Homo sapiens: one gene and its partners. The protein of the gene in region 7 purifies or fractionates together with the protein of the main gene of each other region. This does not show direct contact. Each region holds a gene or a part of one and is shown on either strand. Other genes may lie near its edges.

The links.
Region 1: the proteins of PPARD (region 7) and BRAF purify together in Homo sapiens (pull-down; one large-scale study listed by IntAct). This does not show direct contact.
Region 2: the proteins of PPARD (region 7) and MEX3D purify together in Homo sapiens (affinity purification with mass spectrometry; one large-scale study listed by BioGRID and IntAct). This does not show direct contact.
Region 3: the proteins of PPARD (region 7) and APAF1 purify together in Homo sapiens (affinity purification with mass spectrometry; one large-scale study listed by BioGRID and IntAct). This does not show direct contact.
Region 4: the proteins of PPARD (region 7) and ZNG1C purify together in Homo sapiens (affinity purification with mass spectrometry; one large-scale study listed by BioGRID and IntAct). This does not show direct contact.
Region 5: the proteins of PPARD (region 7) and RHPN2 purify together in Homo sapiens (affinity purification with mass spectrometry; one large-scale study listed by BioGRID and IntAct). This does not show direct contact.
Region 6: the proteins of PPARD (region 7) and NSMCE4A purify together in Homo sapiens (affinity purification with mass spectrometry; 2 studies listed by BioGRID and IntAct, with this or other methods). This does not show direct contact.

What each region holds. Positions count from the first base shown.
Region 1 is NC_000007.14:140,736,430-140,739,929, forward strand, and holds part of BRAF (serine/threonine-protein kinase B-raf), read right to left. Parts: coding exon 3,383-3,500; intron 1-3,382. UniProt on the Homo sapiens protein: Protein kinase involved in the transduction of mitogenic signals from the cell membrane to the nucleus. Phosphorylates MAP2K1, and thereby activates the MAP kinase signal transduction pathway. Phosphorylates PFKFB2.
Region 2 is NC_000019.10:1,561,826-1,565,325, forward strand, and holds part of MEX3D (RNA-binding protein MEX3D), read right to left. Parts: intron 1-3,500.
Region 3 is NC_000012.12:98,679,790-98,683,289, reverse strand, and holds part of APAF1 (apoptotic protease-activating factor 1), read right to left. Parts: intron 3,014-3,500; coding exon 2,888-3,013; intron 148-2,887; coding exon 16-147; intron 1-15. UniProt on the Homo sapiens protein: Oligomeric Apaf-1 mediates the cytochrome c-dependent autocatalytic activation of pro-caspase-9 (Apaf-3), leading to the activation of caspase-3 and apoptosis. This activation requires ATP. Isoform 6 is less effective in inducing apoptosis.
Region 4 is NC_000009.12:68,248,483-68,251,982, reverse strand, and holds part of ZNG1C (zinc-regulated GTPase metalloprotein activator 1C), read right to left. Parts: intron 3,178-3,500; coding exon 3,086-3,177; intron 1-3,085.
Region 5 is NC_000019.10:32,998,889-33,002,388, forward strand, and holds part of RHPN2 (rhophilin-2), read right to left. Parts: coding exon 3,359-3,500; intron 818-3,358; coding exon 698-817; intron 1-697. UniProt on the Homo sapiens protein: Binds specifically to GTP-Rho. May function in a Rho pathway to limit stress fiber formation and/or increase the turnover of F-actin structures in the absence of high levels of RhoA activity.
Region 6 is NC_000010.11:121,961,718-121,965,217, forward strand, and holds part of NSMCE4A (non-structural maintenance of chromosomes element 4 homolog A), read right to left. Parts: intron 1,612-3,500; coding exon 1,521-1,611; intron 391-1,520; coding exon of another isoform or gene 284-390; exon of another isoform or gene 36-283; intron 1-35. UniProt on the Homo sapiens protein: Component of the SMC5-SMC6 complex, a complex involved in DNA double-strand breaks by homologous recombination. The complex may promote sister chromatid homologous recombination by recruiting the SMC1-SMC3 cohesin complex to double-strand breaks.
Region 7 is NC_000006.12:35,425,618-35,428,678, reverse strand, and holds the end of PPARD (peroxisome proliferator-activated receptor delta), read right to left. Parts: intron 2,848-3,061; coding exon 2,600-2,847; 3' UTR 501-2,599; downstream 1-500. UniProt on the Homo sapiens protein: Ligand-activated transcription factor key mediator of energy metabolism in adipose tissues. Receptor that binds peroxisome proliferators such as hypolipidemic drugs and fatty acids.

The DNA of each region.
Region 1 (3,500 bases), on a different chromosome or scaffold from region 7:
CACTTTTTTTTTTTGGAGATGGAATTTCACTCTTGTTGCCCAGGCTGGAGTGCAATGGTGCGATCTCGGCTCACCGCAACCTCCGCCTCCTGGGTTCAAATGATTTTCCTGCCTCAGCCTCCCGAGTAGCTGGGATTACAGGCATGTGCCACCACGCCTGGCTAATTTTGTATTCTTAGTAGAGTCAGAGTTTCTCCATGTTGGTCAGGCTGGTTTCGAACTCCCAACCTCAGGTGATCCGCCTGCCTCGGCCTCCCAAAGTGCTGGGATTACAGGCGTGAGCCACCGTGCCTGGCCTCTGTTTAACCTTTTAAAGTGGTTATCAGGCTGGGCACTGGGGCTCACGCCTGTAATCCCAGCACTTTGGGAGGCTGAGGCGAGAGGATCGCTTGAGGCCAGGAGTTCAAGACCAGCCAGGGCAACATAGTGAGAATCTATCTCTACAACCACCACCACCACCACCACAAGAAATTAGCTGGGTGTGGTGATAGGCACCTGCAATCCCAGCTACTTAGGAGGCTGAGGTGAGAGGATCGCTTGAGCCCAGGAGTTTGAGGCTGCAGTGGGCTATGATCATATTACTGCACTCCAGCCTGGGCAACAGAACAGGCCCAGCCTATAAAAAAAAAAAATGAGGTATCATACTACATTTTGTTTTCTGTCTTGTTTTCTTTTTCTCTCACCAATATCCATGTCATCAATACAAAACTAACTTAATCTTAATGTCTTTTTCTTATTATAGTAAACATTCTTATATATATCTGAATACTTATGAAATAGGTTACATAGCACAGATTTTTAGAAGTATTTTGAATTTATGGATTCTACCAAGGTCTTCCAAAATGCTGCCTTCCACCAAACCTTTAAAATTTTACATAGAATGCTCCTCCTCACTTCCCAACATTGTTCCCAGTGCTGGATATTACCAACCTGAGAGGCGAAATTAAAATATATTTCACTGTTGTGTCTTTGCATTTTACTGACTGCCATGGAAATATTTACACCTTTTCCTAAGTTCATTCACCATTTGTATTTATTATGTGAATCACCTGTTCATATTCCCTTTGCCCATTTTCTATTGTTTGTTACTTATTGATTTGGAGGAGTCCTTTGTATATTATAAACATTTACTTTTTGTTATATATGCTACAATTATTCTTTTTATCTTTCAATGTTATTTTTCTATATAGAAGTTTAAAAATTTTTAATGTACTCACATCTGCTAATTTTTTCCTTCTGAATTTTGTCTATTAAGAAAGCCTTTCCTACCTCAAAACTATAAAAATGATTTCATATTTTATAAAACATATAGATCTTCAGCCATCTAAAATTTATGTGGCATATAACAGTATGGTGTGAAAAGATATCCTGTAACAAAAATTTCAAAATAACACTTTAAAGGGATAGCCTCCAATAATCTGGAAAGTTCACATATGCACTTCAGTTTTTGAAACCATGTAATTAATGAAATGTTATATTTAGAAGTATGGAGCTAAGCATTTTGCCCCTTTTAATATCATTTAAAAAGTGGGCCTAAGGATGTACTTTGCATTATTAATGTCAATAAACATTCTAAGTAAGAACCCGAGCACCATGACGTGAAAAGAGAACATGGGACAGGGTCATGCTGAAGCTGCTCAGCAGCACTTGTCTCTCACCAGGACAGTCTCAACCCAGAGGTTTCCTGACTTAGAGAAACAAATAAAAAAATAAAAAGAAAAAATAAAAACTCTTCCTCAAAGGAACAGTAACTTTGAAACCTGATAAATGAAACTTATATCTACCCAGCCAACCACTTAGCTTTCCCTTTCTTTTCTTAGGCAACACCCTGACAGACTTGTTAAAACCATCAATTTTATCTTCTTTCATTCTTTAGAGAAGAATAACATTTTTTAGATTTAAAAATAAAGGATGAGTGAATCTAATTCCTGTAACATTGACTTCTGTCTGAGTTACTCAGCTAGGACTGGGCATTCAAAGGCCTAAGAGTTCATACATGAACACTCCAGTAATTATGGTAGCAGGGTTACTATGGGAAATAGCACTTCCCACTTGAAACTGTACTGATTCATCAAGGCATATTTATCCAGTGCTATCAGGAGCTCCCTAAGTATCAGAAAACATTGCATTTATATTATAATATCTACTACAGCTAAACTCTGTAAGCTAGTTGAGGTATTTAGATATTTTTGTTTTGTTTTGTTTTAAACAGAGTCTCATTCTGTTGCCCTGGCTGGAATGCAGTGGTGTCATCTCAGCTCATTACAATCTCCACCTCCTGGGTTCAAGCGATTCTCATGTCTCAGCCTCCTGAGTGGCTGGGATTACAGGCTCCTGCCACTATGCCCAGCTAATTTTTGTATTTTTAGTAGAGACGGTTTTCACCATGTTGGCCAGGCTGGTCTCGAACTCCTGACCTCAACTGATCTGCCTGCCTTGGCCTCCCAAAGTGTTGAGATTTGTAAGCCACGACACCTGGCCTTAGTTACAGTTCTTTTTGAAATTTGTTAACTTAAGGCTTTATCCTTCCAATATGGAAAAAAAAAAAAAAAAGCAGTGAGTTATCAAGAATTAGGTAAAGGCAGGCTGAGCTGACAAATGCCTTACTGCCTTTTCCTTTTTCTGCATCAGGCAGAAATGCCCCTCAAAAAGACCCAGTATTAAAGGAAAGCTTGAATCTGTTTACCACCAAGAAGAAATAAAGCAGTGGTTCACAAAATGTGGTCCGTGGACCACCAGGGGATCCACGAGGTCAAAACTATTTTTGTAATAACAATAAGATATCATTTGCCTTTTTTACTGTCATTATTTTACAAGCGTTAAGTAGAGTTTTTAGGGGTGACATGATGTGAGATATTGCAATGTGAGTGCAAAAGCGGAGAATCCAGCTGTCTTCTTTTTGCAAAGGGATTTGCAAAAAAAGTAAAACAATACAACTCCTCACTAATTTTTTTCTCTTAGATAATAGAACTGTTTTTTTCTAAATATTATTTAACATATTGGTTTACTATGTTTAATTCATTAATATTTTAAAAAATAGTTTTAATTTCTAATAAGGAATTAAAACTTATATAAACAAAAGCTCTTTGTGGGGGGGGGGGTCTTCGATAATTTTTAAATGTGTAAAAGAGTTCAAAGACTGAGAAGTCTGAGAACTGATGGACAAATGCAAAGTCTTTCTGAATATTTTGTATTAGGACCCAAAATTTCTAGGTGTGCCACTGCTCAACCCTCATGAAGCCATCTTAATGTGTTTTCTTGTCTGGAGTCTGCACATAGAATCCAAACTCATGAAATACACACTGTGTGCCCAAAAAAGTGCTCAGAAATCTGTCTATGAATGTTAGTCTGTTCTTTTGGATAGCATGAAGCTTTTACTTACTTGGGGAAAGAGTGGTCTCTCATCTCTTTTCTTTTTGAGGCACTCTGCCATTAATCTCTTCATGGCTTTTGGACAGTTACTCCGTACCTTACTGAGATCTGGAGACAGGTATCCTCGT
Region 2 (3,500 bases), on a different chromosome or scaffold from region 7:
CTGCAGAGACAGGGTCTTATTATGTTGCCCAGGCTGGTCTGGAACTCTTGGGCTCAGGTGATCCTCCCATCTCAGCCTCCCAAAGTGCTAGGATTACAGGTGTGAGCCACCATATCCGGCCTCTACAAAAAATTTTTAAAAATTAGCCAGGTGTGGCCGGGCACGGTGGCTCACACCTGTAATCCCAGCACTTTGGGAGGCCAAAATGGGTGGATCACGAGGTCAGGAGATCAAGACCATCCTAGCTAACACGGTGAAACCCCGTCTCTACTAAAAATACAAAAAATTAGCCGGGTGTGGTGGTGGGCGCCTGTAGTCCCAGCTACTTGGGAGGCTGAGGCAGAAGAATGGCGTGAACCTGGGAGATGGAGGTTGCAGTGAGCTGAGATCGCGCCACTGCACTCTAGCCTGGGCGACAGAGTGAGACTCCGTCTCAAAAAAAAAAAAAAATTAGCCAGGTGTGGACCGGGCACAGTGGATCACGAGGTCAGGAGTTCGAGACCAGACTGACCAACATGGTGAAACCCCATCTCCACTAAAAATACAAAAATTAGCCGGGCGTGGTGGCGGGCGCCTGTAATCCCAGTTACTCGGGAGGCTGAGGCAGGAGAATCGCTTGAACCCGGGAGGCAGAGCTTGCAGTGAGCCGAGATTGCACCACTGCACTCCAGCCTGGGCGACAGAGTGAGACTCCGCCTCAAAAGAAAAGAAAAGAAAAGAAAATTAGCTGGGTGTGTTGGTGCGCACCTGTGGTCCCAGCTACTTGGGAGGCAGAGGTGGGAGGATCGTCTGAGCCCAGGAGGTTGAGGCTGCAGTGAGCTACAATCACACCACTGCACTCAGGACAGAGCAACAGAACCAGACCCTGTCTCAAAAACAACAAAACAAAACAACAACAACAAGAAACCGCTAGGCGTGGTGACTCACACCTGTAATCCCAGCACTTTGGGAGGTGGAGGCAGGCGGATGACCTGAGGTCAGGAGTTCGAGACCGGCCTGGCCAACATGGCGAAACCCCGTCTCTACTAAAAATACAAAAATGAGCCTGGCGTGGTGGTGGCAGATACCTGTAATCCCAGCTACTCGGGAGGCTGAGGTGAAAGAACTGCTTGAACCTGGGAGGTGGAGGCTGCAGTGAGCCGAGACTGAGCCACTGTACTCCAGCCTGGGCGACAAGAGCAAGACCCTGTCTCAAAATGAAAAGAAAAAAACCTCTCGGGGAATGAAGGGAACATGTACACTGTACTAACGCCAGAACTCTCAGTTGGGTCTGCAGTGTGGAGGTTTCCTAGCAGAGCCTTTCTTCCTAGGGCTCTGCAGTGTATGGACAGGAAAACCATGGCATGGTCCCCACCAACACCCCAGCACTGTCCCCAGCTGTCGGGAAAACCTGGGGCCTGCGGGGATGGGAGGAGAAGAGGAGCCTCTGGGGCTGCAGCCAGGAACAAGGGACAGGAGGGGAGACAGTGAGCCAGGGGTCGCCCCCAGCTGAGGGGAACAACCTAAAATCACTAGCCTTAGCCTGTGCCGACAGCAGAGAGAGCGAGCCCTGAGCAGCTTCCAGTCCAGGCCCTGCCTTCAACATCACTCACTCATTCATTCATTCATTAGCCACAGAACACCTTCTGTGTACAGGCCCTGGCAAGACACTGAAGACCCAACCATGACCAAGCACCTGCCCTGGTTCCTGTCCCTGGGAACATGCAGGGGGAGAGGCTGCCACGGAGCACAGATTCACCCAGGGTGCCTGGCAAGCGGGGTGAGAAAGGAGGGTACATGTTGGGGTCTCAGCAGGAGCAGGGCCGGAGGTCCCCTAGAGCACCTTTGCTGGCCGGCTGGAGGGAGACGCCTGTGCTTTTGGGTCTCCACTTTGCCTGTCTCCCAGACAGGGCTGCCTCCCCTCACCCCCAGCCCTCAAGCTTTGGAATCTGAAATTTTCTTTGCTGACCCACCAGAGAAACTGGGTTTGAATCCCAGCCCATGATTTTTGTTTTGTTTTGGAGACAGGGTCTTGCTTTGTTGCCTAGACTGGAGAGCGGTGACAAGATCATAGCTCACTGCAGCCTCGACCGCCCAGGCTCAAGTAATCCTCCTGCCTCAGCCTCCAGAGTAGCTGGGGCTGCAGGAGTGTGCCACCATGCCTAATTTTTGTATTTTTTTTTTTGTAGAGACAGGGTTTCGCCATGTTGGCCGGGCTGGTCTCGATTCCTAGGCTCGAGGGATCCTCCTGCCTCAGCCTCTCTGAGTGCTGCTATCCCCTCAGTTTTTACCTATTCTTTACCTCTTGCAGCCTCTGCCTCCCCATCTGTGACCTGGGAGCTGCAGGACCTTTCCTGGGGCACATTATGGGCCTCAGTGAGATGGGGCAGGTCAAGTCTGGCATAGGCTTAGCACACAGTAGACCCTCAATAAAGATCTAGCCAATGGCCAGGCGCAGTGGCTCACACCTGTAGTCCCAGCACTCTGGGAGGCTGAGGTGGGTGGATCACCTGAGGTCAGGAGTGTGAGACCAGCCTGGCCAACATGGCGAAACCCCGTCTCTACTGAAAATACAAAAACCAGCTGGGCATAGTGGCACGTGCCTGTAATCCCACATACTAGGGGGGCTGAGGCAGGAGGATCGCTTGAACCTGGGAGGTGGAGCTTGCAGTGAACCGGGATCGTGCCATTGCACTCCAGCCTGGGCAACAGAGCGAGACTCCATCCCAAAAAAAAAAAAAAAAAAAGATATAGCAAATGAATGAACTGGAGCCTCCAGCAGATGGGTGGGAACTCAGAGGGTTTGAATGACCACAGTCTGCCCAGAAAGCACTCGGACCCCCTCTAGGATCAAGAGAACTGAAGCTCAGAGAACAGCACGTAGCTACTGGGGAGAGGGCTGGTGCCAGGCCTGTGTGACTCTTGTCTAGGTGGGGAGGCCGGACAGGTGCACCCTTCCTGGCCTCCAGGGAAGGGGTAACCTTGGAGCTTGGGTTTGACAGAGAAGCATGAGAAGTTCAGAGAGCCCCAGGGTGGAGAGGAAGGTGAGTAAAGGGGCAGGGCCGGGGCACAAAGGACATTGAAAGGTATGCTTGAGAACGGGGTGGGTGGGAGAAGCTGGGAGCCACAGATGGTTCTACAGTGTGGAAGAAGTACAGACTACCGAAGCTGTGGAAGACGTAAGGACTACTGAAGCTGCCAACCTGTCCTGGCATCCACAGTTGCATCCCTGGCAACGCGCACTCCACTTATGGGGTGGCCACTGTGTGTGACCTGGAGCTGGGATTAAAACCAGCAACTTGGGTCCAGGCATAGTGGCTCACACCTGTAGGAACCCCAGCACTTTGGGTGGCTGAGGATCGCTTGAGGCCAGGAGTTCAAGACCAGCCTGAGCAACAGAGCAAGACCCTGTCTCTACAAGAAAAACTTTATAATAAAAACAAATAAATAAAACTGGCCGTGCGCAGTGGCTCACGCCTGTAATCTCAGCACTTTGGGAGGTGGAGGTGGGCGGATCACTT
Region 3 (3,500 bases), on a different chromosome or scaffold from region 7:
AATATCCACACTTACTTTGAGGAAGCAGTCACTTGACCCAGTGGCTAAGAGAAGATGATGACTACTGTTGGTGAAATGGCAGCAATTGACTTGCTCTGAGTGCTCATCATAGGTGTGTACTAGTTCCCCAGTCATAGAATTCCAAATCTAAAGAGAAAAGAGAAAAAATTTACAAATATCCATTATTTTCAAAGGGAGAACAGAGGGGCAAAGCAATGTCCATTGCTTTGCAAATGCTATCTTATCCTGTCATAGCAGATTTTCCTAGTTGGACAAGATGCTAATGAAACCTCTCCCCTTTCTAAAATATGGCAATATTTTGCCTTAATGTTTAAAAAAAATTATTTGCAAATATACATATATGTACCTATAGCATAACTAGAGTGTCATGAACACATGACATTTCTTAAGGGCAAGATTTCACATGTTTATATGAATGAAAGCAGGCAGAGAAGTGCTTTAAAGAGGTTAGCATAATAGATTTCTGGTCAGAAGGGTTGAGCCCAAGAGCTGGCTCTACCACTTATGACTTGTGTGTCACAAATCCCTAACTTACCTGCATCTCAGTTCCCTCTTCTGTAAAATGGGGATATCTATACCTCTCCCACACAATTTAAGATATCAAATGAGATAATGAACATGACAAGTGTTCTATGGACTTCAAGGTACCATATAAATAAGTAAAGGCAGATTGCTTAGTTAAAAAAAATAAAGGTTTTATAGTCTGAGAGAAACCCAGCTTTCAACCCTATTACTGTTCCCAGTTTAATGTAAGCTTGAGCAAGAGACTTCATCTCTGAATCTGCGTCCTCTTCTGTAAACGGGATCGACACTTAACCCTGCAAGCTGTAGCAGGAAATTGATAATGTAATATGACAAAGTGTGTAGTATTTATAGCCTCTTATAGTGTTCAGTTTTCAGTAAAAAGTAATCATCAGGCCGGGCGCGGTGGCTCACGCCTGTAATCCCAGCACTTTGGGAGGCCGAGGCGGGCAGATCACGAGGTCAGGAGATCAACACCATCCTGGCTAACATGGTGAAACCCCGTCTCTACTAAAAATACAAAAAATTAGCCAGGCGCGGTGGCGGCCGCCTGTAGTCCCAGCTACTCGGGAGGCTGAGGCAGGAGAATGGCATGAACCCGGGAGTCGGAGCTTGCAGTGAGCCGAGATAGCGCCACTGCAGTTCAACCTGGGCGAAAGAGCGAGACTCCGTCTCAAAAAAAAAAAAAAAAAAACAAAAAAATTAATCATCATTCTAGTTACTATGTAAGACAACTAAGCAGTCTATGCCATATAACAACAAACAAAAGAAATAAATTACCTAATGAACCTTCACTGGGATTTTGACTTTTTAGAGGTACTAATGTCCTTTGGCATTTCCTTTGTATGTTATCAAAGCACTGATTAGAATCCCCAGAGGTCCAGAGAGTTTATCTTATTTTAAAGTTCTTTAATAGGTATTTCTACCTCTGGCTTAGAAAACAGAAACTCATTATTATTTCCTTTTACTCCATGTAGCTCTGACTTTAGAACTGCCCTCAGTGGCCACCTCCAAGTCTGACTCAGAGTCAGAGTAGACACTACAGAGTGAATTAACTGTTGGTTAAGCCACGAGTCCAATCTATCAAGAGGTAGATTTTTCCAAGGTCTCAAATTTAGTCTGGACATTCCATAGCCCTCTTCCAGTAGGTGAAAACTTCAGGAAAACACCCAAGGCAAATTTCTTGCCCACTCCACCTAGCTACATCCAGTACTCCAGATTTAACCCCTTTGAAAAAGGGTTAAAGTAAGGTCTGTCTTCCATATATCAGTGATAACCCCCACAAGCCTTCAGTTTCTCTTGAATTCTATATTAGTATAAATGCTCCTGGTAGAAGCCAAATTTAGGAACAAGAGAATACTTAACAAAAATAAAAATTACTCTCTGGCGGGGCACAGTGGCTCATGCCTATAATCTCAGCACTTTGGGAGTCAAAGGCAGGCGGATCACTTGAGGCCAGAAGTTCAATACCAGCCTGACCAACATGGCAAAACTCTGTCTCTACCAAAACTACAAAAATTAGCTGGGCATGGTGGTGCACACCTGTGATCTCAGCTACTCAAGAGGCTGAGGCATAAGAATCAATTGAATCCTGGAGGCAGAGATTGCAGTGAGCCGAGATTGTACCACTGCACTCCAGTCTGGGTGTCAGAGCAAGACTCTGCCTCAAAATAAATAAGTAAAAATTACTCTGTTTACTTTTCTCTATTTATGTTTTTAGACCAGTAACGTAATTATTAGTTTGTTCATCCACCTGGTTTTCCACTGAATATATAAGCCAGTTCATAAGCAAATTAAAAAAATTGGGGTTGCATTTTAAAATTGTATCTTACAACAGGAATCCCCAAGTTTGTGCAGCAACACTCCTAATCACAATGCACTCAAAGATTTCAACTGATATTTAACCCATGGACTTGTCTATTAATGGAAGACAAACTCACTAATTTGTCATTGCTTTTCCCCACTGCTTGTTTAATCCTGAGGTGATCAACCTAGGCATTTTTGCTGGTGTTTAAAAATAAAGAATTTTCAGGCCACGCACAGTGGCTCATACCTATAATCCTAACACTTTGGAAGGCTGTGGCAGGAGGATCACTTGAGCCCAGGAATTGGAGTTTACAGTGAGCTATGATCATGCCACTGCCCTCCAGCCTGGGTCACAGAGCAAAATCCTGTCTCTTTAAAAAAAAGTAAAGAATTTTCAGATAGTGTTAATTTACAATGAATCAGGTTAGTAGATCAACAGGTGAGAGTCCTTTAACTCTACTTACTCTGGTCTCATGATCATGGAAAAATAAAATGAATTCTGTTGTGATTACAACTCAAGAGGAAAAGATTTTCCTACCTTCACTTTTTTATCCACTGAGCAGGTTGCTATAAATCTGTCATCTGTAGAGAATGCACAACAAAGCACTTCATCCTCATGAGCCTTGATTTCTAGAAGTTTCTCTCCTGTTTCAGCTTTGAACACCTGCACAAGTAACAATAAAATATTTTTTATAATAAACTGCTTAACTACTGGTCATCATTCAATAAAAATCTTTAAGTGAGTTTAATCATTGTCATTTTGCAAAACAGAAAGGAACCTTGGCAAAGCTACTCCCAAAATCAGAATTTCTGTCAGAATGTGTATGCCTTCACATAACTAGAGAACTATTCACTGTTACATGTTTGTAAATATCAATGAAAATGTTACAGGATCTTTGGGGTGTTGATTTTCTGGCCAGAAACTTCTGTGGCCGGTGGCGCCTTTGCCCAAGTTTTGCTTGGGCCCACTGGTCTTGTTTCACCCACTTGGCCTGACAGGCTGCATTCAGCTCACACTACCAGCCTGGGTCCCAAGCCTGCCAAGGGCGAGTCAGGCGTGGAACAGCGAGGCGTGTGTGAGTGAGCGTGGGGTCCAGCCACTGCGCACAGACGTGCTGACTGCTGCAGCGGGGCAGGCAGCTCCAGGTGCC
Region 4 (3,500 bases), on a different chromosome or scaffold from region 7:
CAACATCCATTCTGCAGCCCACTGATCAAGGAGTAACTTTGACTTTTAAGTCTTATTTAAGAAATATATTTCATAAGGCTATAGCTACCATAGATAGTGATTCCTCTGATGGATCTAGGCAAAGTAAATTGAAAACCTTCTGGAAAGGATTCATCATTCTAGATGCCATTAAGAACATTCGTGATTCATGGGAGATCAAAGTATCAACATGAATAGGAGTTTGAAAGATGATTCCAGCCCTCACAGATGACTTTGAGGGATTTCAGACTTCAACGGAGGAAATAACTGCAGATATGGTGGAAACAGTAAGAGAACTAGAATTAGAAGGGGAGTCTGAAGATGTGACTCAATTCCTGCAATCTCATAAGAAAACTTTAACTAATGAGAAGTTGTTTCTTATGGACGGGAAAAGAACGTGGTTTCTTGAGATGGAATCTACTCCTGGTGAAGATGCTATGAACACTGTCAAAATGACAACAAAGGATTTAAAATATGACAGAAGCTTAATTGATAAAGCAGGGTTTGAGAGGACTGACTCCAATTTTGAAAGAAGTCATACTGTGGGTAAAATGCTATCAAATAGCATCATGTGCTATAGAGACATCTTTTATGAAAGGGAGAGTCAACTAATGCAGCAAACTTCATTATTATCTTATGAAATTGCGATAGCCACCCCAACCTTCAGTAACTACTACCCTGATTGGTCAGCACCCATCAACATTGTGGCAAGACCCTCTACCAGCAAAAAGATTATGACTTGCTGAAAGCTGAGATGATCGTTAGCATTTTTTAGCAATAAATATTTTTAATTAAGGTATGTATGTTTTTTAGACAATTCTATTACACATTTTATAGACTACAGTATAGTATAAACACAGCTTTTTTTTTTTTTTTTTTTTTTTAAGAAATGGGGTCTCATGCTGTCATCCAGGCTGGAGTGCGGTGGTGCAATCATGACTCACTGCAGCCTCAAACTCCTGAGCTCAAGTGATCCAAGTAGCTGGGACTACAGGCCTGTCACATCACACCCGGCCAAAACGCATAACTTTTATATGCAATGGGAAACAAAAAAATGTGTGTGACTCACTCTATTGTGATATTCAGTTTACTGCAGTGATATGGAACTAAGCCCACAATATCCCTGCGGTATGGCTGTACAGTATAAGAATCACCTGAAGGGCTTATTAAAAACAGCTTGCTTGACCCCCTCCCTTAGAGATTCCGATTCAGTAGATCTGGGTTGGTCAAGAATTTGCATTTCTAACAAGCTCCCAGCTGAGGCTGAGGCTGCCATTCAACATACTACCAAGTAGCACTGGCATAGAGAGATCCCTGGAATAAAATTTACCTACTTGTGTGTGTGTGTATGAATGTGTGTGTGTGTGTGTGCGTGTGCATGTGCGTGTGTGTGTATACAGTCTTGCTCTGTTGCCTGGGCTGGAGTGCAGTGGCGTGATCTCGGCTCACCATAACCTCCGCCTCCCAGCTTTCAAGCGATTCTCATGCCTTAGCCTCCTGAGTAGCTGGGATTATGGGGTGCGCCACAACGCCTGGCTAGTTTTTGAATTTTCAGTAGAGACTGGATTTCACCATGTTGGCTAGGCTGGTCTTGAACTCCTGGCCTCAAGGGATCCACCTGCCTCAGCCTCCCAAAGTGCTGGGATTACAGACATGAGCCACCATGCCCAGCCCTTACTTGTATATCACAATAGTGAGATGATTACTTTTCAACTTTCTTCTTTGTATTTTTTAGGTATTTAAATTTTTTTACAATGAATGTTCCATCTTTACCCAAACAATAAAATCTTTATTGTAAAGAAAGTTAGAAGCAAGAAACATTAACATTTTTTATAACTACAATTTGTATAAAAGCTTTCTCTGTGATCTTTAGTTTTTCTTTCTTCCTCTGAAAAGCTGAATAGTGTTTAATTAAACTCTCAAAAGTATCAAGTTTTTGTCTATAAAATGGCAAAACTGGCTATGATGAAATAAACTGATATTTGCTATTTCTAATAAAAGCATACAATATATTCTTTCTTACCAGATTCAAATAATATTTAACGCCAACATATTAGTCCAAGTCCTATCATCAGTCAGATTTATCAGAAAGGTATGAAAACCCATGCCTACTATAAGGACCAAAATAGCCTAATTCAATACTACTTTGAAAACATGGGGATGATGTTACTACGTAATTGTTTTAAGTACAATAACCACTGATCACATTTGAACTCTCAGGATACTTCAATATTTCTTTTGGACAACTATGACCTGTTTAGTAAATTACCCCCAAATACTTTAATATAGTTTTACAAATCGCCCCAATGCCAGAGACCCAGATCAAAAAGAAAATAATGGTATGGGTCAGATTCACAGAATAAGCACTAACTTTTATGCAAACTGAAAATAAAGATTTTATCTAAAAGTTATTTGGGGAAAATAAGCAGACTTTATCAAGAATTAGAGCTTGGTAAGAAGGTAACAGAAACCCATTGTGAGAAACAGGTTGACTCTGTGTAGCTTTCCATAGTAGAGTTTAGAGTTTCTTGTCATGATTACCTTATCAATGCAGTATAATAACTACTTACACAGCACTTACATTGTATTAGGTATTATAAGTAATCTACAGATGATTTAAAGTATATGGGAGGATGTGCATAGGTTATAGGCAAATACTACACCATTTTATGTAAGGGACTTGAACATTAATAGATTTTGGTATCCTCAGAGGTTCTGGAACTAATACGCCATGGATGCCAAGGGACAACTGTACTTAGAAGTAGAACGTCTCTGCTCTTCCTACATGTCCTTATTTTTAACAACTTCTGTTCTTACAAATAATCCTAAATCAATCAATAAAACTTCCAATTCTATTAACAGCTTAAAAGCACCAAGAAATACTCTGATCATTCATTCAACTGCCAAAGAAAATGACAAACGAGTACTTTTCCTCTTTTAAACCAAAAAAAGTTTTTGGTTTAATACTAACAAAAGCTTTAATACTCATTTTAGATATTCCTCTAATACATCTATTTACAATATATCACAGAACTATATTCTGGTTATTAATAATCTCACTTCTTACCAGGGTCTGCTAATCCAGTGGTCTCTAACAGTATGTCATCAAATTTCCCCTTCTTTTGCATCAAATTCTCAATAGCTCTAAGGCCATTGTCCCTGGAGAATACCAAAACATAATTTACAGTTAATTACCTAAATATTTTGAAGTGATTATTATAAACACTTTAAAATGTATTCAACAACCCGAGACAAAAGTATCCTTAGGAATGTGAAAATTTAACTCACTTCTAACCTTCTAACAAAATGTCTGTCCCATATTTACCAGTGAGAAAACAATAGATGCATATATATAATAGGTAAAAAGAAATCATATACATAATAATACTTTATTAAAATTAAAAGCAGAGGAAACTTTATCTGACCAAGTATCTTTTTATAGCTTTATGAAATTTTTAAAAACCAACATACAAAATAATGAT
Region 5 (3,500 bases), on a different chromosome or scaffold from region 7:
AGAAGAGAGGAGGAGAGAGAAGGGGAGCGGAGGGTAACAGGGGAGGGAAGAGGAGAGGAGAGAACAGGAGAGGAGGGGAAGGGAGGGGAACAGAGGGGAGGAGAGGGGAGGGGAGCAGAGGGGAGGGGATGGGAAAGAGGAGGAAAGAAAAGAAGCGTGGAGAGTGAGTCCAAGGTTTCTGGCCTGAGCACCTAGAGGGGTGGGAGTTGCCATCACTGAGACGGAGAAGCTGCGTATGTGTGCATGGGTGGTGCGCAGAGGGGCAGGTTAGGGTGGTGGAGGTGAGGTCTGCACATGGGAAGAGATATTCACACTGAGACATGGCAGAGACCAAACCAGGACACTGCATTACCAGTCATTAGGTGTTCTTGGTAATTCAGCCATGCATAAGGAAATCAACAAACGTCTCCTTCCCTGTTAGCGTGACACATGCCACCCTGTGGACCCCAAGGGAGATGGTTAAAGTCCTGGCTCCACAGTGGGAGGCCTGGGTGCTATGGAACCCATGAGAACACAGCCTGGGAAGCCCTCTGAGGCTCAGGACCGCGCCTCATGACTTCTGAACCCAAAGTGGCCACGATGACTCGGAACACCCCCCTCTCCCGGGCCCTCTTCAGGGACCTCTCTGTGGCTGGCTGTGAGCAGGACCAGCTGGGCACCAAGTGGGGCCCACATCTGGGTGCAGGGGGACACGCACCCAGCTGTCGGCGCTGCTGATCATTCTTCAGTGTGGCCAAGGGTGTCAGCCCCTCTGGCATGTGGTCGTAGAGCTGGGACAGGCACTTCTCCTGGTGGTCCAGATCCGTGCCTGGCTTCACTGCAAAGAGAACCACAGGTTAAATCCCCTCTCATGGACCTGGCCACAGACCCACGTAGAGATTTCTCTACCATGTCTCCAGCTTCCTTTTTTCTGCAGTTTCACAAGGCATTTGGGATCATGGGTCTCCTTTCTGCCCCCGGACACACCCCAGGCCGTCTAACCCTCAAGGTTTTCTTTTCTTTGAGACGGTCTCACTCTGTTACCAGGCTGGAGTGCAATGGCACAATCATAGTTCACTGCCGCCTTGAACTCCTGGGCTCAAGTGATCCTCCCACCTCACCTCCTGAGTAGTTAGGACTACAGACATGCACCACCACATGCCAGGCTAATTTTTAAATTTTTTTGTAAAGACAAGGTCTTGCTACATTGCCCAGGCTGGTCTCAAACCCCTGGGTTCAAACGATCCTCCTGCCTTAGCCTCCCAAAGTGCTGGGATCAAATGTGTGAGCCACTATGCCTGGCTACCCCAAAGCTCTTGCTCACTGGGACCAGTCACACTCCAGAGGTTCATAATTTTTTTTTTTTTTTTTGAGATGGAGTTTCGCTCTGTCACCCAGGCTTGGGTGCAGTGGTGTGATCTTGGCTCACTGCAACCTCCACCTCCCGGGTTCAAGCGATTCTCCTGCCTCAGCCTCCCGAGTAGCTGGGATTACAGGCACATGCCACCATGCCCGGCTAATTTTTGTATTTTTAGTAGAGATGGGGTTTCAGCATCTTGGCCAGGCTGGTCCTGACCTCGTGATCCACACCGATTTCGGCCTCCCAAAGTGCTGGGATTATAGGCGTGAGCCACCACACCCGGCAAGGTTTGTAATTTGACCCTGAGCCCCCACACGCTACCTCCTCCAACTCACCCACCACACAGAACCTCCTGGCATAGCCCAGACCCTGTCATGCCCGGCCTGCACCCCTCTGCGGGCCTGCACACCTGCAGCAGAGCCCCTTCCTGCTTCAACCACACCCTTCGTGGCGCGCATCCTGCTCTCAAACCTCACAAAACCACTCTCCACTTCCCCAGCACCCTCCGCCTCTGTTCTGTGCTCAGACACTTTACTCCCTCTAGGCTGACCCTTCCCTCCTGTGCAGATGGAAAAGTTGAACTCAAATGTCACTGCCTCTAAGAAGCCATCCATGACTGTACCATGGAGTCCACCTGCTGCTGCATTTGTGTCTCTACAGCAATCACCGAGGCACTATATGGTATTTCTATTTGTTTTCACATCTTGTCTCACCTAATAGACTATATAGTACTAGGAGTGGCGGCTCACACTTTCAGAGAACCTACAGTATATAAAGCATTATTGAGCTTTGCGTACAGGCCCTTCGTTTTCGTTTTCATGACAGCCTGTGAGGCAGGTTCTCTCCATATACCCATTTTACAGATGAGAAAATTGAGGCAGAGGACAGCTAAGTAACTTGCCCAAGGTAAAACAGCTCATTCATGGAAGAGCTGAGATATGAACCCAGGAAGTCTGGCTCCAGAGGCTGTCTTTTTAATTCCTTGGGAGGCTGCCTGGATTAGTACTCATTAGATCAAAAATCCCTGGCCAGGCACCATGGCTCATGCCTGTAATCCCAACACTTTGGGGAGGCCAAGGCAGGACAACTGCTTGAGGCCAAGAGTTTGAAACCAACTTAGGCAACATAGTGAGACTCCATCTCTATAAAAAAAAAATTTTTTTTAATTAACTGGTGTAGTGGCATGTGCCTGTATTCCCAGCTATTTGGGAGGCTGAATTGGGAGGATCGCTTGAGCCCAGGAGTTCAAGAAGGCAGTGAGCCATGATCATACCACTGCACTCCAGCCCCATCTCTAACAATAAAATAAAATAAATAAAATAATAAAATAAAATAAAATTCCGATCATCACAGATTTTTTTTGCATTAATTTTTATTTTATTATTATTAGTTTTTTTGAGATGGAGTCTTGCTCTGTCACCCAGGCTGGAGTGCAGTGGCACAATCTCGGCTCACTGCAACCTCCACCTCCCTGGCTCAAGCCATTCTCCTGCCTCAGTCACCCGAGTAGCTAGGATTAGAGGCACGTGCCATGCCCTGCTAATTTTTGTATTTTTAGTAGAGACAGGGTTTCACCATGTTGGCCAGGCTGGTCTCAAACTCCTGACCTCAAATGATCTGCCTGCCTTGGCCTCCCAAAGTGCTGAGATTACAGGCATGAGCCACAGCACCTGGCCTGCATTAATTTTGATTCTTTTAAAATATTACCTTAAAATGTTACTTATCTTGATGCCAGCATTTTTGGCCTTCCCTTAGATTCTAGATTCCAGGTGAAAATTCATCCTCTTGCACCCAGGCAGAATTAAAGGTGCCTCTTCTTCCTCCCTCTAAAGAAGCTTATAACCCCTAACCCCACCATGGCCTGTGCGGCAGCTGCCTCAGTCATGGGTCACTCCCATCCTCTGCCTTCAGCCTGTGAGCATCTCCAGGGAAGGCAGTTAGCTCTCACTCAGCTCAGAATCGCCCCTGGGGCAGCTGGACCACAGCCCTCGCCAAACTCCCGAACCCCCCAGGCCTTACCCTGGTGGTCGATGAGGAGGATGGCAGTGAAGTAGTGGGCCAGGGCCGCGTAGTGGTGGGCCTTCACGCAGGCTAAGCTGGCCCAGGAGTAGGGGATGTTCTCTTTCACCGGCGCCTGGCTCATGGCTGCGTGTAGCTGTTG
Region 6 (3,500 bases), on a different chromosome or scaffold from region 7:
CTGTGCTACAGAAATACAAGTGTAACTGCACAAAATTACATACTAAGATTTTTTACTTCAGCAATTTATACAAGAGTAAAATGCTATAAAGAACTTAATCATCCAGCTGGGCATGGCACTCACACCTGTAATCCCAGCACTTTGGGAGGCCGATGCTGGCAGATCACCTGAGGTCAGGGGTTCAAGACTAGCTTGGCCAACATGGCGAAACAATGTCTCTACTAAAAATACAGAAAAAAAATTAGCCAGATGTGGTGGCGCGTGCGCCTGTAATCCCAGCTACTCAGGAGGCTGAGGCAGGAGAATTGCTTGAATCCAGGAGGTGGAGGTTGCAGTGAGTTGAGATGGTGCCACTGCATTCCAGTCTGGGCGAAAGAGTGAGACTGTCTCCTAAAAAAAAAAAAAAAAAATAGGAACTTGGCCGGGCGCGGTGGCTCATGCCTGTAATCCCAGCACTTTGGGAGGCCGAGGTGGGTGGATCACAAGGTCAGGAGATCAAGACCATCCTGGCTAACACGGTGAAACCCAGGTTCTACTAAAAGTACAAAAGAATTAGCCAGGCGTGGTGGCGGGTGCCTGTAGTCCCAGCTACTTGGGAGGCTGAGGCAGGAGAATGGCGTGAACCCAGGAGGGAGAGGTTGCAGTGAGCCAAGATCGCGCCACTGCACTCCAGCCTGGGCGACAGAGCGAGACTCTGTCTCAAAAAAAAAAAAAAGGAACTTAATCATCCATTAATGGAGGATCTGTTAAATATATTTACAGTACAGCCATATAATGGGAATCAGTGAACAAAACAAGGGAGATCTATATGAAATGATGTGGAAGAATGTCCACATGGAAAAGTCACGTAGCAGAAGAATGTGCATATTATGATTAGCTTGGAAAAAAAGAAAAAAACAAACTTTTTTTTTTCAGATGTAGTTTCGCTCTTGTTGCCCAGGCTAGAGTGCAATGGCGTGATCTTGGCTCACCGCAACCTCTGTCTCCCGGGTTCAAGCGATTCTCCTGCCTCAGCCTCCCAAGTAGCTGGGATTACAGGAATGCACTACCACACCCGGTTAATTTTGTATTTTTAGTAGAGATGAGGTTTCTCCATGTTGGTCAGGCGGGTATCGAACTCCCAACCTCAGCCTCCCAAAGTGCTGGGATTACAGGTGTGAGCCACCACGCCCGGCCAAAACAAACTATTTAGGTAGGTGTGTATAAAACTGATAAAATAATCTGAAAATATACACATTACATTTTATAATGAGGGGAGGTGGAACAGCTACTTTTGACATTTCTCACTTGAATGGCATATTTCATTTTGTAACAAAAAAAATCCCCATCTTTTAAAGATAAAAATGAAAACGTTAACTTCAAAGTTTTCACATGAAATTTCTAAAGGGGAGAAGAATCCTCATAAAATGCATATGTATTTATTCAAATATTACATACAGCTGAAATTGCCTTTTAAATACAAGTAACCTCAGTGAACAGATAAATACAAATTGCTCCACTTTGAATGGTGTTACACTTACGATCTTCTCGAAAATATGTCTGCAACAATCCCAAGATTCTTTCTACTTCTTTCTCTGTTGCTTCTTGATGAGATTCTTCCATTCTTCTTAACTGAAAAAAGTCATTATCAAGCTGACAGACCTACTTACTGGCCTATTAACGTTTTCTTCTCTCTTGCACACCCAAACTCCTTTTCTTCTCTCTTGCACACCCGAACTCTTTTTTTTTTTTGAGACAGGGTCTTGCTTTGCCACCCAGGCTAGAGTGCAGTTGCATGATCTCGGCTCACTGTAACCTCAGACTCCTGTGCTCAAGGGATCCTACCACCTCAGCTTCTTGAGTAGCTGGCACTAGAAGCGTGCACCACTACACCTGGCTAATTTTTTTTTTTTTAATTCATTCTACCTTGTCTAAGACACCTGGCTAATTAAAAAAAATTTTTTTAGATATGGGGTCTTGCTGACCATCCTGGCTAACACGGTGAAACCCCATCTCTACTAAAAATACAAAAACTTAGCCAGGTGTGGTGACAGGCGCCTGTACTCCCAGCTACTCAGGAGGCTGAGGCAGGAGAATGGCATGAACCCGGGAGGCGGAGCTTGCAGTGAGCCGACATCGCGCCTGTAATCCCTGCGCTGTAGGAGGCTGAGGCAGGTGGATCACAAGGTCAGGAGTTCGAGACCAGCCTGGCCATTATGGTGAAACCGTCTCTATTAAAAAACACCAAAATTAGCCGGGCATGGTGGTGCCTGCCTGTAATCCCAGCTACTTGGGAGGCTGAGGCAGGAGAATGGCTTGAACCCAGCAGGCGGAGGTTGCAGTGAGCCGAGATCGCGCCACTGCACTCCAGCCCGGGTGATAGGGCAAGACTCTGTCTCAAAAAAAATTATGGTTTAAAAAAAAACAGATTTTCTGGTTTCAGTAACTTTTTTTTTTTTTTTTTGAGATGGAGTCTTGCTCTGTGGCCCAGGCTGGAGTGCAGTGGTGCCATCTCGGCTCACTGCAACCTCCGCTTCCCAGGTTCAAGCAATTCTCCTACCTCAGCCTCCAGAGTAGCTGGGATTAGAGGCACCCACCACCACATCTGGCTAATTTTTTGTACTTTTTAGTAGAGACAGGGTTTCACCATGTTGGCCAGGCTGGTTTCTAACTCCTGACCTCAGGTGGATCTGCCCGCCTTGGCCTCCCAAAGTGCTGGGATTACAGGCGTAAGCCACCACACTCGGGCAACCTTTGTTTTTTTTGAGACGGACTCTCGCTCTGTCGCCCAGGCTGGAGTACAGTGGCATGATCTCGGCTCAGTGCAACCTCTGCCTCCTAGATTCCTAATTCTCCTGCGTCAGCCTCCCGAATAGCCCGGACTACAGGCACCTGCCACCATACCTAGCTAATTTCTGTATTTTTAGTAGAGACGGGGTTTCCCCGTATTGGCCGGGCTGGTCTCGAACTCCTGACCTTGTGATCTGCCCGCCTCGGCCTCCCAAAGTGCTGGGATTACAGGCGTAAGCCACTGTGCCTGGCCTCAGTAACATTTTCATATCAATTTCTTAATAGAATAGTAACATTACCAGATTAACCATTTTCAGGTTGAACATAAAATAGCAAAATACAAAAGGGCGGTTTAGAAACAGTGGTTCTCGAGTGGGTGTGACTTTCCCCCCACCTCCCCAGGGAACATTTGTTGTCACATGTAGACATTTTTGGTTGTCACAACTCAGGGGTCGGGGGGGCTATTAGCATATAACAGGTAGAGGCTGGGGATGCCGCTAAGCATCCTACAATGCGCAGGACAGCTCCCCAAACCAACATTATCCAGCCGTAAATGTTGACAGTGCTGAGGTTGACCCTGGCTTCGGAGAACTGATCAAAACTAGAGAAATGAGTTAAAACAAAGACAAGCAGCCAATCCAATAAAATGCTTAAAGGCTTAAATAAAATGATTATTTAAGTGACAAAACCTGGCTCCAGACCCGCACACTTAGAAAAAATGGCCAAATTGC
Region 7 (3,061 bases):
TTTTTCCTGACTAAACACATACTCTGTTACACACCCTGACCTGGCCTCACACTGCAAACAAACCCATGGCTGCCGGGGGCTGGGCTCGACTGGACCGCTGGGGAGATGGCACTCAGGAAAGACAGGAGAGAGCTGGGTGGCAGCAAAGGAGAGGAAAGCCGTGATCTCTTGTGGTGATGAAAAACTGGCTTTGATCTATTGAGTCCTGCATCCGCCTCCTCCAGGGGCCTTCCCCTTCCCCAGACCCCAAGTGCTCCACCAGGTGAGGCCAGGGCACCACAAGTCCTTTGTCCCCTCACACCCCAAATTCTCTCTGCAGGGCGGAAATGGCATAGTCGTCCACCTGACTGACAAGCGGTGAGCAAAGCGAGGTGGAGGCAGGGGAGGGTTTTGGAGCCCAAAGCCTCCTTTGCCCTCCAGTACTGGATGTGGAGGAGGCGTGGAGCCCTGTAAGCCCCAGGAAAAACATGCAAGTAACTGAGTCAGCTTCCAGTCAGCTCTTAAATATTTAATTCCCATTTATTTAAAGTTTCGTCAGTCTGTGTACACTATTTATATTAAAAACACAGGAAGCTGGGGCTCCTAGCAAAAATATACATTTCAATTTTGGAGATTGTTCAGACACTGAGAAGAGCTGTATCCTCAGCACCAGACCCGGGTCGGGGCAGGGACGCGGCATGTGGCCGGGGAGGGGGAGGTGGGTCCCAGCAGCTGTCCCTTCATAGCCTTGGCCTGAAAGGAAGCACCCCAACCCCCATCAGCTGGGTAGGTGGGGAGCGGGAAGAATCCTGCCAGCAGAGAGTGATCCTGGGGCATGGAAGGGAGGCTGCAGCGCCCGTAGGGGCAGGGGCTGGGCACTTCCACCCAGAGTCACACACAGAATGGCTCCTTGGGAGGGAGGACCAGGCAGGACCCAGGAAGCCTGGGCTTGAACCCCAGTTCTCCTACCTCTGTGCTCTGAGACTCCAGCCAGCCCCTTGCCCCTGCAGGCCTGGAGGGCTCTGCGCCGCTCAGACATGGCATGCCCAGCTGTGCTTTGGCCCTGCTCTGAGGTGAGCGCACCTCAACCTGGGAGCAGGGGAGGGCAGGGACCAGCGGTGTGGGACTGGTCCCACAAGGTCCCCGGACACTAGAGGCTGTGCAGGGAGACTTCTAGGTGGCCAGCTGGGCTGAGTAAAGGGGAAGGGGAGGGCAGTAGAGCTATTGGGACAAATGGACATCAGAATGAACAGGCTCAGTTTATCCCGGGAAGCTCCCACTGGGAGCAGGTGCTGGGCTGACCCACCAGGACCTGCAGGACCCCTGCCTCCCCGGAGACCTGGCCCAGCCCTGCCTGCTCACCTGCAGGCCCCTCTCTCTGGGTTCTCACCTGCCTCAGGGAGGGAAGGGAGGTGCATGGAGCCTGCAGGTAAAGTGATTTCAGTGCTTATGTGTGTGTGCTGGAGGGGCAGCTTCAGGGGGAGTGGGGCCTGAACTCCCGTGGAGCCAGCTAGAGAAAGGAGCAGGGGGATGTGAGGCCAGGCCCTGGCCCTGGATGCTGACACAATGTGGGCGGCTGCTACTGGGCAGGGGGGCAGTGGGAGTGCTGGCGGAAGGCCTGCCCCGAGCTCTCCCTGGCCTGACCCCAGGACTCAGACCCCGAGTCCTAGGGGCAGAATTGGGTGTGCTGCTTCCTCCAACCACCAATCCCCCCTCCTTCTCTTGAGACTTGCTCCTCTTCAGTGAGGTGGGGGCCCACCTGGAGGGAACCCTGCCTACTTCCAAGCTGGGAGAGTGCCGTCCAGCGGCCAGTGCAGGGGGCCATCAGCAACATTGGCCTGGCAAACCAGTGTGAAGATGGAAGGACACTGGGTGTCAGTGGGGCTGAGGTGTGCTGCTGGAGCAGGATCAGTTGGGTCAGTGGGTGGCCTCAGCATCGGAGGGGCAATGACAGTCTTGGGGAGGCATCTGGCTCTCAGCCTGGGGCCTCCTGCCCACTGTCCTTTGCAGCAGGGACCCCATGACTATAGGGGGCTGCAGTCAGTCCAGGCCATGCTTAGCCTTCCCTGGAACCCAGGCCCAGAGAGCTTAGTGTTTCTTTGGATGGCTCAAGTCTTTTGCTCTGAAGACAGGAGACAGAAGTGAGGACCTAAGCCTGCAGGTGCAATGATGGGGCAGAGGGCAGGCCCCACTCTCTTCTGCTCCTGGGGAAAAGGTGTGCAAAAGCAGAGGTCCTGTTCTATGCTGCTGGTGAAATAATACAAAACATCTCACAGAATAAGAAAGGAGGACAGACGTGGGGGGTGGAGAGAGAAAGGGAGGGCAAGGGAGAAGGGAAGAGAGAAACCTACAGAAAGGAAGAAACAGAGCAACAGGAATTAGAAAAGAAAGAGGAACTGAGAAAGAGGGAGACAACAAAGACAGGAAGAGAGCTGGCTGGAGGAAGCGGGAGAGAGGGCACAGGGAGCCAGAGGCCGTGGGTGTCATGTGTCTGAGGGCGATCGTGGGACTCTGCTGCTCCAGGCCGGGTGCTCAAGGGCTGGTCAATGGAAAAGTCATGTGGGTGGGCCCCTCCAGTGCTGGCCCCATTGGAGTCTGCAGGGAGGCCTGGGTGCCGCCGTTAGTACATGTCCTTGTAGATCTCCTGGAGCAGAGGGTGCAGCGAGGTCTCGGTTTCGGTCTTCTTGATCCGCTGCATCATCTGGGCGTGCTCGGTGACCAGTTGCCGCAGGTCAGCCATCTTCTGCAGCAGCTTGGGGAAGAGGTACTGGGCATCAGGGTGGTTGGCCTGCAGGTGGAATTCGAGGGCACGCAGGATGGTGTCCTGGATAGCCTCCACCCGTGGAACGTTCATGAGGCCTGGCCGGTCTGTGGGGACACAGGGCACGCCAGGGAGCTCAGAAAGGCAGTGGAGCTCCCCTACTTCCACCCCAAGAGGTGACTTGGCCCAGGGGACGGCAGGCCTCCTTGGCCGTGACAGACCAAGCCCTGTCCCATCAGCAATGCTCCACTGGGTGTTCTAATCTCCCTACCCCTGGTCTTAATCCACTTCTTTTGTTTTTTGCCAATTTGTCCCCACCTC